Linked DNA regions of Homo sapiens: region 2 is linked to region 1. A link means that fine-mapping ties the variant in region 1 to the expression of a gene that starts in the linked region. Tissue or cell type: whole blood. Region 1 holds a variant in brackets; the other region holds the start of a gene. All regions are shown on one strand. Distances are between the middles of the regions.

Evidence for each region. PIP is the estimated chance that this variant, and not a neighbour inherited with it, causes the effect.
Region 2: DRC8 starts here. The variant in region 1 is fine-mapped to the expression of DRC8 in whole blood (TOPMed, PIP above 0.99).

What each region holds. Positions count from the first base shown.
Region 1 is chr1:245,087,720-245,095,826 of GRCh38, forward strand. DRC8 (dynein regulatory complex subunit 8) reads left to right here. Exons shown (of 8, transcript NM_032328.4): 8 at 1-118. Among named protein-coding and RNA genes, the nearest start is that of KIF26B, 63 kb to the right of the region's middle. The variant G/A (reference allele first, on the strand shown) is at 3,629.
Region 2 is chr1:244,965,684-244,973,786 of GRCh38, forward strand. It overlaps DRC8 (dynein regulatory complex subunit 8), which reads left to right and starts at 3,999. Exons shown (of 8, transcript NM_032328.4): 1 at 3,999-4,360; 2 at 4,646-4,760. The coding sequence starts at 4,736. It overlaps LOC124900416, which reads right to left and starts at 4,887. Exons shown (of 4, transcript XM_054328428.1): 1 at 4,643-4,887; 2 at 4,572-4,641; 3 at 1,290-4,569; 4 at 1-125. The coding sequence starts at 4,854. The coding sequence ends at 4,303. It overlaps EFCAB2-AS1 (EFCAB2 antisense RNA 1), which reads right to left and starts at 5,186. Exons shown (of 2, transcript NR_111907.1): 1 at 5,129-5,186; 2 at 1-4,296. RefSeq lists enhancers at 2,349-2,853, 5,292-5,661 and silencers at 4,062-4,201, 4,472-4,651, 4,662-5,021, 5,032-5,121.

The DNA.
Region 1 (8,107 bases):
CAGAACGAACCACTCGAAAACGAGTAGCAGTGTAATGAAGGCTTCTTTTTTAAACAATAACAAATGCTTCATCAATCTGAGTGTGGAAGGTGATTTATCAAAATAAATATTACTAATTTATTTTTTTATGAGTGCCAATTACAAATATCATTTGGGATAATAATAACTTAGTGTAAACATTTATATTTGCTGATCCAGCATGTCACCATTTATGGAGTAGCTAAAGGAGTTGAGATCATTGGAACTAGAGAAAAGAAGGTTGAGTGGAAGTTGATAGTGTAAGGTAGTGGCAATTCTCCCTTTGTCTTTAGAATTCTCACCCACTCCGCATATCTGTCATGGGAGCATTGTCCTGAATACTGAGTAAGAATACTGAGAAATGTTATGGTGTGCAAATGTACAGCTCCTGAAAGAGCAGAATGAAGCACAAGCAGTCACAATGGAAAAATATATGGCATGGCCACTGCCTCCTCCTTGCAATTCTCTCCGATCTTGGCATCTTATATGGCAACTATATGGCAACTTACAAGCAAAGGGGAAGATAAAGTAAAGGGAAGTGAACAATTTTCCAAACTTAGATATTCTGTTATAACAAGACACACACACACACACACACACACACACACACACGGGTCTCTATTTGAAGATGGCTTCACCACTATATGTGTGTATCTACATAGATGTAAACATTTAGAGTTGCTGTGAGCCTTCCTCAGGCATGTAGTCTTGCCCCCAAAAGAGGCGGCTGCTACCCAAGAGACTGTCGCTGTTCATTCATTCATGAAACACTGAAGGAGTACCATGAGATGATGTGCTGGGAACCGGAGTCCCTAACGAATCCAGGTCACAGTTTAGTGAGGGAAGCCTGCAAGGCAGTCAGCAGCCACATTTCAGATAGGGGCATGTTCAGGGTCCCGTGCAAGTGCCGAAGAGAGGCAGCTACTCAGCCTTGCAGGGAGAGAGCTTTCTGGAAGATGAAAGGTGCTAGTGAGCGGAGAAGGCTTCCCAGGACAGGAAGCTCCTGACTTTAAAACGAGTAGTTTAGTAAGTGGGTGGCGGGGCACAGGGCATTTCAGCAGGTGAGCAGCAAGTCCAGAAACCCTAGAGGTGTCATGAAACATGGAACCACCTGGGAATTGAAAGCAGCTCAGTATATTTGGAATGTGGGAGATTTGGGGGTCATGATGAGAGGTGAAATTGGAGTGGTAAACAGGAGCGGTATCATTAAGGATATCGGGTTAGGTGCTGAGTTAAGGTTTCAGTGTGAGAGTTTGGACTTTATTCTGAAGATCACAGAGAAAGATCATTTGTAAGCAGCATGGAAAATAGATTTGAAAGGTCAAGACTAGAAGTGAGACCAGTTTGTAGGCTATTTGGTTGGTGGGAGGGGATAGACTGGGAAAAGTCAAGCATGAATCCCAGGTTTCTGGCTCGGACGATGGGTAAAAGTGCCATTCATTCAGATAAGAAGTCCAAGGAGCAAGTGGGGCATTTGGTAAGCAAAATGATGAGGTTGGGTGCAGACACCTTGGGACACCCAAAGGGTGACATTCAATAATCAATTGGATATAGGAGGGAGATCTGGCTGGAGACCTGGATTTTGGAACTGTCAGCATGTAAGTAGTATTAATGCCTTGAAAGTAGAAGAGAAGACAGTCTAGAACAAAACCATGGGGGATATCAGCATTTACGGGAAGGCAGAGGAAGAAGAGCCCACAAAAGAGACTGGGAAGGAGAAGCCTGAGAAGAGGGAAAGCTGGAAAGAAGCATCTTGGATGCCAAGATCGGAGAGAATTGCAAGGAGGAGGCAGTGGCCATGCCAGATGTAGTGGAGAGGAGAGGGAAGTTAAAGACGGAAAAAACGTCCATTGGTGTTAGCAATGGAGAGTTCATTGAGGGCCTCTCCCACAGCAGATGTGGGGAAGCAACAGGGTATGGAGTTGAGTGGATGGAGTAAGGAATGGATGTGAGAAGGTTGCAGCCTGGAGGACAAGTTATTCGGCAGTGAAGAGGAGGAAACGGACAACAGGCTCGGGGAGTGATTTTTGGAAGATGGGTGGATGTAGCAAGTTCATTTCTAGTCCAAGGGCTGAGAGCCCACAGAGAAGGTGAAGGGAGGGGCCAGCTTCCAGAGCAATAAAGAGATTTAGGAACAATGAACCAACGCTTGTGGTCCCTACCTCATGGCCTCTGCTGCCTTTTGGAGAGGAAGGTAGTAGGTTATAGAGTTTCAAGAGAATGGTGTAATTTTGGAATATCTCTTGTGGGAAATGGGAGAAAGAGTTGAGAAAGAGCCCATGTAAGGATTTTCAAGAAACCCTGGAAGATTTTGTGCTCAGGAGCAAAAAAGAAAAGAAAAAGGTAGATTGTTGTACCAGGGTTAAGGTTTTGTCATGTGCGTGAGGTGGAAGGAATCAAAGGCCGAGGAATCTGGGAGAAAGCAGTTCCGATGGTGTCCGTGGGGCTAACGCATGAGGGAAAGACCCAGGTAGGAGGAGTGGGTAACAGGTAGGAGGAGTGGGTGACAGATGGGAGGGGGTGAGAGGGCTCGGGGCCCTAAAAGGGCAAGTGGCTGGTGTTGGTAGCAAGGGGTGGTCTTTCCTGCCTGAGTGATAATTCCTGAGTGATAATATGTTTCCCTTGAAATTTCGCTTCGATGTGTTCTTAGAGTGTTTCTTTTCTTCTCCTGTGTTATTATGTGAATAAATAGTAAGAGTGGCTGACGTTTGTTGACTGTTCCCTGCGTTGCAGGCACTGTCCTAAGTGCTTGACGTACATGAACTCATTTCATCCTCACATCCACCCATCGGTGCAGGTGCTATTAAGTTATCCCCATTTTAGAAAGGTGACAATCAAGAAGTTACACAGCAGTAAGTGGCTGTATCAGCTTTTTCTAGGTTATATTGTGATAACAAAACTCCCACGTGTCAGAGGTTTGCAAGAATGAAGCTTATTTCTGTTTACGTTTTTTTTTTTTGGTCAGCTGGGGTCATCCTGGACTCTGGCCTACGTGTCTTTGTCCTACTCATGGCCTAGAGAGGTAGGATGACCGTCTGTCCTGCTTTGCCCGTGGTAGTTCCAGACTATACCTGTCCCAGTGTAATTATTAATAGGTCTCCTTTGTACTCTTAGAAATGTTCCAGTTTAGATGATTAATATGTGGTCATCCCATTCAAAAAATAGTGAGTAAAAACGGTGGTGAGGAATCGTCACTTCTGGAAGGCTTCCTGACAGATAATTCCAGCAGTGGTAAGAATGGAAGGCATTTCTTCCTTCTCTAGTTTCCCAAGATCATTTTTTTCCCCAGGATAACCTGAGATTTTCCCAAGGTAAAATCCAAATAGAGACCTGATGTGCCACTGGCTCGGCCGTGCATGCTAGAATCACCAGCCAGAGATGAGGATGAACCGCGTGCCTTCAGGACAGGGCGGAGACGGAGGAGGAAAGGAGTGTGGTGATCCTCGGAACATCAGCAGACAGGCTGTTGATGATAGGAACACATTGCAGCGGGGAAGGAGGATGGCTGAGATATGAAATACCCTTCAAGGTGGACGCATACCCAGGGGCATGTCATTCGGTGGCAGGGGCCAGCACGGACATGCAGCACTGAGGCGTGTGCTAGCGCCCA[G/A]TGCGTCGACCCAGGCACGGACTTGTTTGGAGCATACAGGACAGCTCTGCGTTAAGACCTGTAAGCCATTAAAGAAGTACAGTCTGGTGAATGAACCCTAATCTCTTGATGATCAAGTGATGACATCATATTCTGTCTCCGAGGAGACACCCTCTTGCACAGAAGGCAGTAGAGGAAGCTTGCGTCGAGATTGCCTACCTCCCCAGCCCCACCTTCGAGGGTTCTTTCAAAAGTTCGGACTGATGTTCAACTTCACATCTTGTCTCAAGGCAATCCTCTCTGTTTAGTCTCATAGAGTTGGCTTTGTGGAATGTAATTCATTTTTATCTTTAGCACAAATTTGTCTGTTTCTTTTAAGGCCACCAGAAAGCACAACATAGACTCCCCACAGAAATCTCATTTTATCTCCTAAGTTGCAGAATAAACGTACCTTGTTTGCAAAGGGAACATTTTCCTTTACACTCAAATCACTTCAATGTGTATTTTGCCTCTTCAGCTCACTGACCTCGCCCGCAGCATCTGATGTAAGTCACCATATGCCATTTCCCGACTAGGAGAGTGCTTGGCCTCTTGTGCAGGAAGTTTGCTTACCCTCATGACTCCTGGCTTCCGCAGAGCCTGCCATACCCCACAGCTTGGCCGGGCCCTGTGGAAAGCCATCTCTATTCTCACACTGCTGGGGAAGGTGCATGACTCAGGACCCGACACACAGGCCTGAGAGTCTGGCGATCTTGTGCTCTGATCCCAGCTTCATGTGTGACTCACTCTGGATCAGGCGCTTCACTTCCTGTGCACCTCTGTCTGTAAAATAGAGAGCCCAGCTCTAGTCCTTCTCCCTCCTGAGAAGCAATGCAGAGATTTAGTCCCCTTTGCAGTCACCCAGTGTCTAAGTACCAAATGCCCAAGAGACAAAAAAGAGTCCAAGATAGCAGGCTAGTTGGGATTACGACTGTTCGTTAAGGGCAGGAGTATTTTCTGTGGGATGGAATGTGTTTAGATCTCTCTCTCCTAGTTTCCTGTCTTCCTTCCTTTCGCTTTTCTAAATCCTTCCATGTAAGAAAGTACCCTGTTTATACAGACAGTTCCTTGAAGATCAGTGTCACTACCTTACCCTCCTGGGCTGCTTAAATAAACGGAGAGCCTCATGGGTGCCAGGCATGGTGGCTGCCTCCTAGGCCTGCCTATTTCTGAAAGCATGGTTGCCAATCATCTGCTTCAGGAGCATCTGGAAGGAGGGTGTTAGAAATGGGAGGTGTGCCCCATTCCAGACCCCTGAAACAGAATCTCTGGAGGTAGGGTCCAGGAAACTTATATTTTTAATATTCTCAGGGGATCCTTATGCACGCTTGTGTGTAAAAAGCACTACCTGGGGCTCTGATATTGAATGAAAGTGTGGGATTTGGAGTTAGGCTCTGCTGCTTACTGATTACGTAATTGGCCCAGACATTTAATATTGCTGAGCTTCCCCGGAGGTCGAGGCTACAGTGAGCCATGATTGTACCACTGCACTCAGCCTGGGTGACAGAGAGAGACCTTGTCTCAAAAAAATAAAAAAATATTGCTGAGCTTCTGCATCTTAATTTGTAAAGTGGAAAAAACACTTTTCGGGGCTGGTGTGAAAATTAAATGAAATAATAAAAGTGAAAATGTTTAAAAAGCTGTAAGCTATGACACAAATAATTATTTACAGAAAGCCAGCTAGGCAGAGAGGGAGAGAGAAAAAGAGAGAGGGAGGGGCAGGGATGGAGATCTGCTGCCTGGGTGTGGACAGGGAGGTGGGGAAGTAGGTAAATAATAGAAAACTAATTGGAGAGAACGTGCGCATACCTGGGCTGCTGGTGGGGAGATAGCCGAGGTTTGCTGTCATGGTGCTATTAATTATAAGGCGTTAAGTTTATTTCTAGAATGTGAAAACAGGAGGCCTTAAGAGGTTTCTTTTTTTCTTCTTTTAAAAATGTGCTATCAGTCATGGTACTTTTAGAGCAGCAGGAATTATTTACCTCATCTAGTGGAGAAAACACTCTTAATCATTTGAAGAAACTGTTATTTTTCTTAAAAAAGAAAAATCAGGCCAAGCACAGTGGCTCATGCCTGTAATCCCAGCACTTTGGGAGGCTGAGGTGAGCGGTTCACTTAAGGTCAGGAGTATGAGACCAGCCCAGGCAACATGGTGAAACCCCGTCTCCACAAAAGTACAAAAATTAGCCAGGCGTGGTGGTGCACTTATAATCCCAGCTACTCGGGAGGCTGAGGCAGGAGAATTGCTTGAACCCGGGAGATAGAGGTTGCAGTGAGCCGAGATGGTGCCACTGCACTCCAGCCTGGGCGACAGAGCAAGACTCCATCTCACAAAAAAAAAAAAAAAGAAAGAAAAAGAAAAGAAAAGAAAAATCACAAGTTGAAAAATTGAGGCCAAACCTAGTTCTGTGGAGAAGGAGATAAGATAAAATAGCACACTATGAAAATCGGGCCATGGTTTTATATGTGTGGCAGGTCAAAATGCCAAATATATCTTGCTGGCTCCCCCCACACGCCCCGGCATTAAGTTTTCAGCTATTAGTAAGAAATCTCAAAAGAGGCTTCTAAGCATTTATCACCAAACTTAGGAAATGTACTGAAGTATAGGTGAGTATTGCATGACTTTAAATACAGCTTTTAAACATGTCAAGATGTGTTTCCATGCTCTGAATGCCTAGTTTTAAACTGTCTTGCTGGCTGGTAACCATTCCTGGTTACTAACTCAAGGTATGATCCGCACTTAGGCAAAGCTCACTGTTAATGAGAATAGAGGTAAGTCTATTTTCCAACTAGTCTTGATAATGTTTAAGTTTTCTTAGTTCTTCTTTATCAAATCCGATTAGCCTGTCTTTGTTCTTACACAACATGATGAAGAGCTCATCCTGGTGGAATTGTCGGCCCCACTGTTCTCGGAAAACCCCCCTGTGCTTAGGTGTTGGGATATCTTCAATTCGAGGTTACTTTTTAGGAACTTTTTAAGCCTCTTATCAGTTTTTGAGGACTGGTGTCATTAAAACCAAATAACATCTGCAAATCCTTCACTCAGTTGGCCACCTGTACGGTTAGTGATTGCACGGAAATAAGCAAGGTGGAATGAGTACACGAGCGAAGGCTCCCCGAGCTTCCTTCAGGACAGCCGCCTGCCTTCCTGATACGTGCATTCCTGGTACATGCATTTCTGCTGTATGGACCCCAGGAAGATGTCAATGAGATTTAACTCTAACACAGAACATAAATATAAATTAAAACAAATCCTGGTTTTCTTCCTGCACCCTGAGGAGTTATCTTGCGTTCCCTGCAGGGGCACCTCACTGTGAGATGGCTACGTTAGAGAATCTTCTCAGGAAGGGCTCTTTTGGAAAAACAATGTAAAGTGTAAAATACTCTAAAAATTACTAGAGTGGCTCCCAAGCAATAAAGAGAAATTGGAAAATGCCAGTAAACAAAAAAGAAGAGGAAAACCCCTTAATTCCACAGAAGTTAACCACCATTACTAATGCTTTGCTTCATCTCTTCTGAAAGCTTTTTCCAAGGATGTGTCTCTCTATAGAACTTCTTTAGAATAATATCACTGTGGAACCTATCAGTTAGGGTCCTTGACCATAAGGACAGAAAGCAGGACTCACTGGAAGGCACCTGGGCTGAGGAAAGAGTGCTCACAGAGCCTACTGGAGACTGGGGCACCAGGCTCAGGCCAACAGGAGCCAAGGGGGCATCTGAGGGCAAGGAAGCATGGTGCAAGAGGATAGCAAACATCACACAACCGGAACAGCCCGTGCAGGGCCGCTGCTGCAGGGGATGGCTTTGCACTGGCTCAGGTTCAAGGCCTGCAAGACACAGCCCACTGAGCTGAGCTCCGTCTGGCCTGGGCAGGCAAGGAAGGACCTTGCTTCTAGGCAGCCATGTGGAAGGCAGGAATCCTCCAACCACCAGCTACACCCCGCTGGAGGGAGAAAATACTCTGGTGAGAAATCAGGGTACTATTGGGGAAGAGAAATAAATAAATAATAAACACGACAATACTACAGGATCAGACCATATATGCTATTATGTAATCTGCTATTTTAAATGAATACATAAGGAACAATCTTTCCATGATAGTGTGTACTCACCTAAAACATAACTTTGAGTGACTGGATAGTATCTTATTGTTTGGAGATACCTTAATTAATTAATTAATTTAGAGACAGGTCTCACTGTGTCACCCTGGCTGGAGTGCAGAGGCACGATCATAGCTCACTCCAGCCTCGAACTCCTGGCCTCAAGCAATCCTCCCACCTTGGCCTCCCAAAGAACCGGGATTAGAGCCACCACACCTGGCCTATTTAATTAGTTCCTCATACTTCATAATTTAAATAATTTTCAGTTTTCACTATTATAATAAATTGTGACCAATATCCTAGTAGTTAAATCTTAATTTAATTGTTCACTTAGAATACATTCCGAAAAGCAGAACTGTTG
Region 2 (8,103 bases), 120 kb before region 1:
AAGGTGGGGTTTGGCGTCTGAGTGCTTCTGCCCAGGTGGAATGGGGCTTATTTCAGTAGATTTCCTTGCAAGTCCTTTAAACTTCTCGAAGCTTTCAGTTACATCTATTGCGCCTCGTGAAAACTCTAAAATAGGAAGTTTGGACATTGTTACTTCTATTTTTATGAGTTAATAAGTTTTAAAGAGATTACATGACTCGCCCAGGATCATGAGATTAGTAAATGGCAATGCCCAAGGAAAATCCAGTTTTTTTAAAAAAAAATTATTCCCAGTCCAGATTTCAATTATCTCCATATTAGGAAAGTAAACAGGGCATGAAGGATTTTTAAACTATCATTTTGCATTATTCCCACCACTTACCCTTTCCACTTCACTCACATCTTAGGTAACTGAGTCAACTGCATTCAAAAGAAACATTTTTGGGGGGAGAGGGGAGGGATAGCATTAGGAGATATACCGAATGTAAACGACGAGTTAATGGGTCCAGCACACCAACATGGCACATATATACATACGTAACAAACCTGCACGTTGTGCACATGTATCCTAGAACTTAAAGTATGATTAAAAAAAAGTAAAAATAAGTAAATAAATAAATTCCTTTAAACAAAAAGAAACATTTTCTGTGTTCCTCACGGACACATCACTGATGGCTGTCTGAACAGATTCAACTCACTATAAATTCAAGCATGCAAAAGGACATAACCTGTACATATCCACCTGGCTCCATAGAGTAATTAAGCAAATAAGTGTCATTGTCTAAAACTATGTGCTTGCTTTTCTGATTTAGCCCTAAGTTTATATATCCATGAGTGGGATCAAAAACGATTTTCCGATTCTAAATTTCTGAAAATCACGATGAGATGTTTAAGTGAAAAAATGCTTTGGCAGCATACAATATTACAAGTTACTCAAGTATTACAAGTTAACAAGTTACTCAAGCTATAGCTCAGAAGCCATATACATATATATGTGTATATATGTAGAGTATATATGTATATATACACATATATGTAGAGTATACATATACGTAGATGTATATATACTCTACATATATGTATACGTATACATATACGTATATGTATACGTATATGTATATATACATCTATCTATCTATCTATCTATATATATATATATATTTTTTAAGATGGAGTCTTGCTCTGTCACCCAGGCTGGAGTGCAATGCCATGATCTTGGCTCACTGCAACCTCTGCCTCCTGGGTTCAAGTGATTCTTCTGCCTCAGCCTCCTGAGTAGCTAGGACTACAGGCTTGCAGCACTATGCCCACCTAATGTTTGTACTTTTAGTAGAGACGGGGTTACACCATATTGGCCAGGTTGGTCTCGAACTCCTGGCCTCGTGATCTGCCCACCTCGGCCTCCCAAAGTGCTGGGTATACAGGCATGAGCCACCGTGCCCGGCCGCAAAATATATTCTGAGGAATAAAAATGATTGTAGTTAGTTTTCCACAGTCCAAAGCAAGCTAATAATATTTAAAGAGTTAAAAGTGTAATATAATCATCGGTCATGTTTCTACAACCAAAGAGAGTTGAAAGGAGTCAAATATCAGCATAATGCAGATAATGTACTCACTGGCATTGTGGGCCTTTATTATTTGGATAATCATTTTCACCTTGTGGAGACTTTTCCAGAATTATATACTTTTATGCCTAATCAGCAAATTAGGCAGTTGAAAAGTATGTATGAAGCAGCTAATATGTGCCCCAATTAGGCTAGGTAGTGTGGGTATATAAAAAGGGTTTATAAAGGGGGAGGCTCCTATTCAAACCTTAGTGGGGTCAGGAGATGCGGAAGTTAATTAACATATATTAAATATTTTTTTACTCACCCACACCTAGAGAAACAGTACTGTTTTAAATGTGCTGTAGGAGTTCAGAGAAATACTGATTAATGTGGTTTGGAATAAATTAAATAATAAAAAGCTTTGCTGAATACAGTTAGTTTAAAAAATATAAAAATATAGGGGGATTTGCAGAGAAATCTGTTCAACTCTTAAAATAATTTTTAATTTATATATGTTTATATAAGAATTCCATTTTATTAACATGAAATACTAGTACCTTTTTTTGGGGATGGAGTCTTGCTCTGTCATCTGGGCTGGAGTGCAGTGGCGGATCTCGGCTCACTGCAACCTCTGCCTCCTGGGTTCAAGCGATTCTTCTGTCTCAGCCTCCCGAGTAGCTGGGATTACAGGCGTGAGCCACCACATTCGGCTAATTTTTCTATTTTTAGTAGAGATGGGGTTTTACCATGTTGGCCAGGTGGGTCTTTAACTCATGACCTGAAGTGATCCACCCGCTTCAGCCTCCCAAAGTGCTGAGATTATGCGTGAGCCACCGCGCCTGGCCCAGTACTTTTACTGATGAAAAATGTAATGTAAAAGGAAGGTCTGTCTTACATACAATAAGTGCTGAATCTGGGTCTTTTTTAAAAAAAGTCATTGAGAAGACTTACTCCTTTCTTAAGTTTTAAGACATTTATTATTGCAAACAGAAAAATTGTACTAGATACCGGGGATATATAAACGAATAATGCCGTTTCTGTCTTCAAGATCTTACTGTTTGGTAGGTGGAAATAAAGTGAACGAACGAAGGCACTGCAAATCAATGTGGGAGGCTCTATAAGCATGGGGCCACAGAGGAAAAGGCTGAGAGGGAAAGCTTCAATGACTAGGTGACTTCAAAAAGGTCATCCTGGCCAGGCACAGTGGCTCACACCTGTAATCCCAGAACTTTGGGAGGGCCAGGCAGGCGGCAGATCGCTTGAGCTCAGGAGTTTGAGAGCAGCCTGGGCAACATGGGGAAACTCTGTCTCTACAAAAAATACAAAAACTAGCCAGACATGGTGGCGCGCGCCGCTCCTCCCAGCTACTTGGGAGGTTGCGGTGGGAGGGTCACTTGAGACCGGGAGGCGGAAGTTGCAGTGAGCAGAGATCACACCACTGCACTCCATCCTGGACGACAGAGCGAGACCCTGTCTCGAAAAACAAAAGACAAAAACAAAAACAAAGGTCATCCTGCAGGACAACCAGGAGGGCACAAATGTGTGTCTGTGGGAAGCTGAAATGTTGGCGGGGGAAAAAAGCAGGGAAAGGCATTCCAGAAAAAGGAAACTGTAAACAGCACACGAAAAAGCATAGTGAATGAATAGGAAGCCTGAGACCAAACTTAGGGTTTCCTACACTTATTTCAAAGCCCTTCATTATCTATATGGAAAGGGGGAGTCTTTAAACACAAATATTTAGATCATATTGACTGAGATTTAGATATAAATGAATGCTAATAATTACTTTTCGTTATTTTGGGGTGTTAAACATTTACTGTACAAGATTGTATTCGTTTTAAGTATCTTCTAACATGAGCCATTTTGTAATGATTCAGTTGTTTATATTCAATTTCAAGTAGAATGCTGATCACAGCGCCAAATGGGTATCTTCTACAGAAAAAGTTATTTTAATAAAGAAAAATATAGTCAGTTTTAGGATTTCCTGAGAGATTATAGAAACAATAAAAGCATTAAAACTGTTAAGTCATTAAATACGAGTACCTTGTATTTTGAAGGCTCTTAAAATTTAGTTTATAAATTGCTTTTACATAACATATGCACTGAAATACCACTTAAGATTAGTTTTGAAAATAGGTGTTCGTTTCAACCACATCATTAGGTATTTTATTCAAAGCTCTTTATAAAAAGAGCTTTACTATGTTCCAGTATAGTAAACTTATCCAGAAAATAAGACAAAAATTTAACTTCATGCTATAGCTGCAAAGTTTTCGGAAAGCGGGATTTAAAACTTCCATTGTAACTTTAACTAGCGGTCATGTCAAATTTCACAACTAAGAACATTTTAACGCATGTAATACTGAGCACAACATGGGCACGTTTTTGTTGCTATGAGAACCTTCTATTTTGTATTAGACATTGCAGCCTTGACGACGCAATGTTTGTGCTATTTTGCGCATGTTTTCCTGCAGCTATTCCTCTCCTCTAGCAATAGTCGAATGGCTCTGGTTTCCTCTTGCGCCCGGCCCAGTTTTTCCGTTTTAGCTTCGGTTGTCATAGGCTGTGCTGTCGCTTTCTCTGGGAAAGGACGGTGAAGACTGGACGGGAGAAACCGGGAGGGCAGGCGCGGCCGTTCTGCAGCAGCCGGGCCGCTTCCCGGCGGGAGGCGGGCTGCGAATGGGAAGCGGGAGGAGGAGGCCGGGCCGCGGGCTGGTTCTATCACCCCCTTGGGAGCCCAGCTCTTCACCTAGCTCTCCGGCGCTTTTCAAAATCTGCAGTTAACAACAAAAATCGAGCAACGCCACGTCGCACAAACAGGACAGGAGGGGGCGAGGGGTGTGTGCGCGCGCGTGCTGTCCCCAAATGGATGAGAAATAAGGGAAAGGAGGGGTTGGGGACCGTGTGATGAAGCAACATGCTAGGCCCGGGACAAGTCCGGCTCCGGCCTCGGGTCTGGAGGGACAAGGCCGGGGGCCGGGTGGCAGACGGGGCCTCTGGTCTTCCCCCAGCGCGAGGGTCGTGGCGCGAAACGGGGACAGGGCGCGCGCTCGGAGCCTCCTCCCCGCCCCGCCCCGCCCAAGGGTCTTCCTCCCCCGGGATTCAGAGCGGCCCCTCCTCCAGGCCAGGCTCGCCGCGGGGCGCTGAGCAGGCCGGGACACCGCGGCCGAGGTTATCGTTAGGCATCTCCCAGGCGACCGGCTCCGCAGCAAGATGGCGGACGAGAAGGACAGGGAAGGTAAGGTAGGGGAGCCGGGGAGCCGCTGCCCTCGCCGCCCGCCGCGACCCCGGGCTGCACGGGGAAGCGCCGGGTGGGGTGGGCCCTCGTCCATCTGGAGTTCCCACCCGCAGGGAAAGGGCGGCCTGAGGAGGGGGCCACCCGGCAGCAGCAGTCGCCCTGCCCCCGTCCCCGTAGCCCGCCCGGCCCGCCGCTCCGCCCCGCCCCGCCCCGCCTCTCTCCCCCGCCCCGCCCCGCCTCTCTCCCCTCTTCCCTCCCTCTTCTCTCTCCCCTCCTCCCGCCTTCTTCTTTCTCCTCCCGCCCTCTTCACCCTCTTCCCCTCCTCCCGCCCCGTCCTCCTTCCCCCTCCCTCGGAGGCCGGGCCTTGCATCCTGCGCGGGCTGCGCCGGAGGCGCCGGCAGGGGGTGCTGATAATGGCGTCGTTGTTCACGGTCGCGGGGAAGCCGCCGCCGCCTCCACACTCTCGCCTGGGGTCTCGGTGCCGCAGGCGCCACGCCCGTAGCTGTCCAGGCTGTGGGCCCCGGGGGGTGGCCTGGGTGAGGAGGAGTTCTGGCCGCCTGAATCTGACGGGATCCTCTGTTTGCGCCGAAACCCCGCGCTGGCGCAGCCTGATGGCGTTCGCGGCCACCATTTTGCCTCCTTAATGAGGACGCAGGAGGACGGTCTGGAGGTCACAGCCGCTGCCTCCGAGCTTCCCGGTCCTCCGAAATGCCTGCCCCGCCGCCGGCTAGCGCCGCGCAATTGGCCTAGTGTCTTGTCTTAAAAAAAAAAAAAGACACACACCCAAACAGCAATTTTAATAACGACGAAAAACCAAAACCTGGTTGAGATCTTGGAACCGCTGTGCGCCGGCCGGGCCTCTCCCAGGGGACCACCCAGCCCCGCGCGGTGGCCGCCTGCAGAGGCGGGACTGCGCTTCGAGGCTTAAGGTCGCCAGTTCGGAGGCATCGATGTGTTGTCTGTGCGGAGAAGCCAAAAAGTGATTACGTTTATTTGCAAGACCGTTCATGTTGTTTTCAGTTCATGGTATGATTAAAACCCGATCCTTTGTTACCATGCCCTTAGGTACTAAAAAATAATTGTGTTTGATAGTTGGCAGTCACCCAAAAATATCCAAAAAGCCATGAAACAGTAAAGGTAAACAAGTAGGAAGTGAAAATAATATTCGTCCTTTGTTTTCTTTCTGGAGTGCTCAAAACACCCTCTCAAACCATTTTTCTCAGCATAGAACCAAGTGTGGTCAGGTTAACAGCTAATATTTACAAGGGAAGAAACGAACCCTGAGATATTTAGTCACTTGTTCCGGTGATCACAGAAAATCGGCGAAGAAACACATGAAACTGCCAACGATCTCTCTATTGATAACAAGGATACCGTGATTTTTATGTAATATTAATCTGAGAAGCCAGGATTATTTTGTAGGTATTAGCTTTACGAAGATGCCCTTACATACAAAGAAAAGGATAATTTTAAAACTTTCCCAGAAAAATGGATGGCTTATTTTTGTTCTTTACCAAAAAAAAAAAAAAAAAAGCCATTAGGAGATAAACTAGCAAGGTAATTATGGATATTTATTTTCTTAAAAAAGACTTGGTTAGGTCAGCATGAGAAAAAACGCACTGGAGTATGGTACAAATACAGTATTTCTCGTTTTTTAAAAACTGAGAGCTTTCCTGATTTTTCAGCTTTTGAACAATTTTTTTCCATTTAAAGTAAATTCAGAGAAACAATTTTGTCGATAACTCATAGAAGTAATGACTGTTAAAAGCTGGATGCCATTCATTCAGAATACATATATTCAATGCCATTATGTAGATAAGGCATTCTACTTAGAACTTTGAAAGATACGAAAATGAAAGACATTGTCTTTGCTTCCAAGGAAGGTGAGATGAGTAAGGGAGATGAGAAATTTACAAATGGGAGGAAATAGTTAACTGGGCTGAGTAGTCTGGGTGCCAACCACTGTGCTAGGTGTGTATCCTTGTAGTCCGTGGACAGCAGCCTGGACATCACTGGCTGCCACCGACCTAATAATGAATCAGTCTTCATTTTAACATGTTTGTAGGTGATTTGTATGTACATTAACTTTCGAGAAGGCCGGGCGCGGTGGCTCACGCCTGCAATCCCAGCACTTTGGGAGGCTGAGGCGGGCGGATCACGAGGTCAAGAGATCGAGACCATCCTGGCCAACATGGTGAACCCCGTCTCTACTAAAAATACAAAAATTAGCTGGGCGTGGTGGCACGCCCTGTAGTCCCAGCTACTCAGGAGGCTGAGACAGGAGAATTGCTTGAACCGGGGAGGCGGAGGCTGCAGTGAGCCAAGATCACACCACTGCACTCCAGCCTGGCGACAGAGTAAGACTCCGTCTCAAAAAAAAAAAAAAACAAAAACAAAAAACAAAGTTCGAGAAGCACTCATGTGCTGTATCTCATTTATTGTTAACAGTTTTATGGATTAACTAATTGCAGTTTGTGAAGGGTATTATGAAATAAAGGCATTTTGTTAGAGGATAAACTAAGTAGAGACTCATTTTGGTGGTAAGATCTTTTTATGGAAATAGTCTATTACTATATTTGATTGTCAGCTACTGTATTTTGAATTTTCAGAAATTACGTCTAACCAATTAATCAGAATTGATTAAGTTTTGAGGATTCACTCAACTAAACTCATAAAAGACTGATGTGCAAACCTGAATGATTTATTAATTTAAATAAGGGTATATACATTGACTTGAAGGCTGATTTTGCCAATATACTAATATAATAATTTTGGCAATATACTAATATAATAATATACTGTTTTATGGGTACTAAGCTTCGGGTAGTGTGAATTTGTATTTCAGAAGTCATTTGATGACCGTGGAATCACACAAAAGAAAGGATAATTTTGAAGGATGTGTTCAGTACCCTCTAAGTTCCAAAAGATCTGGGACCATTTCTGATCTGTTAATACTGAGTGTTGTGCAGAGTGCTTGGAACGTGGTAGGTAATCAATAAATATTTGTTGAATTCAGAACATTTGAATTAATCAAAGACAGCTTATGAGATTTTAACCAAAGCATTCCTAGCTATTTTCCCCAAACTTATTCTATACCTAAAAGTACACAAAACTCGTTTTAGGTCTCTTTTCCCCTCTGCTTTACCGGTAAGATACATTCTTCTATTCCATCTGGCTCAACAAAACGTTTTATTTCACAGTGCCACGGTATTCACTAGCATGTCTTTAAAAAACAACTACAAAAAACCTCATTGTAGAAATACACATATGTTTTAAATAGTTCATCCTTAATATTGAGATTTCTAAAAGTTCTAAAGGGGGAATAAGTTTCAGGGTACCTATC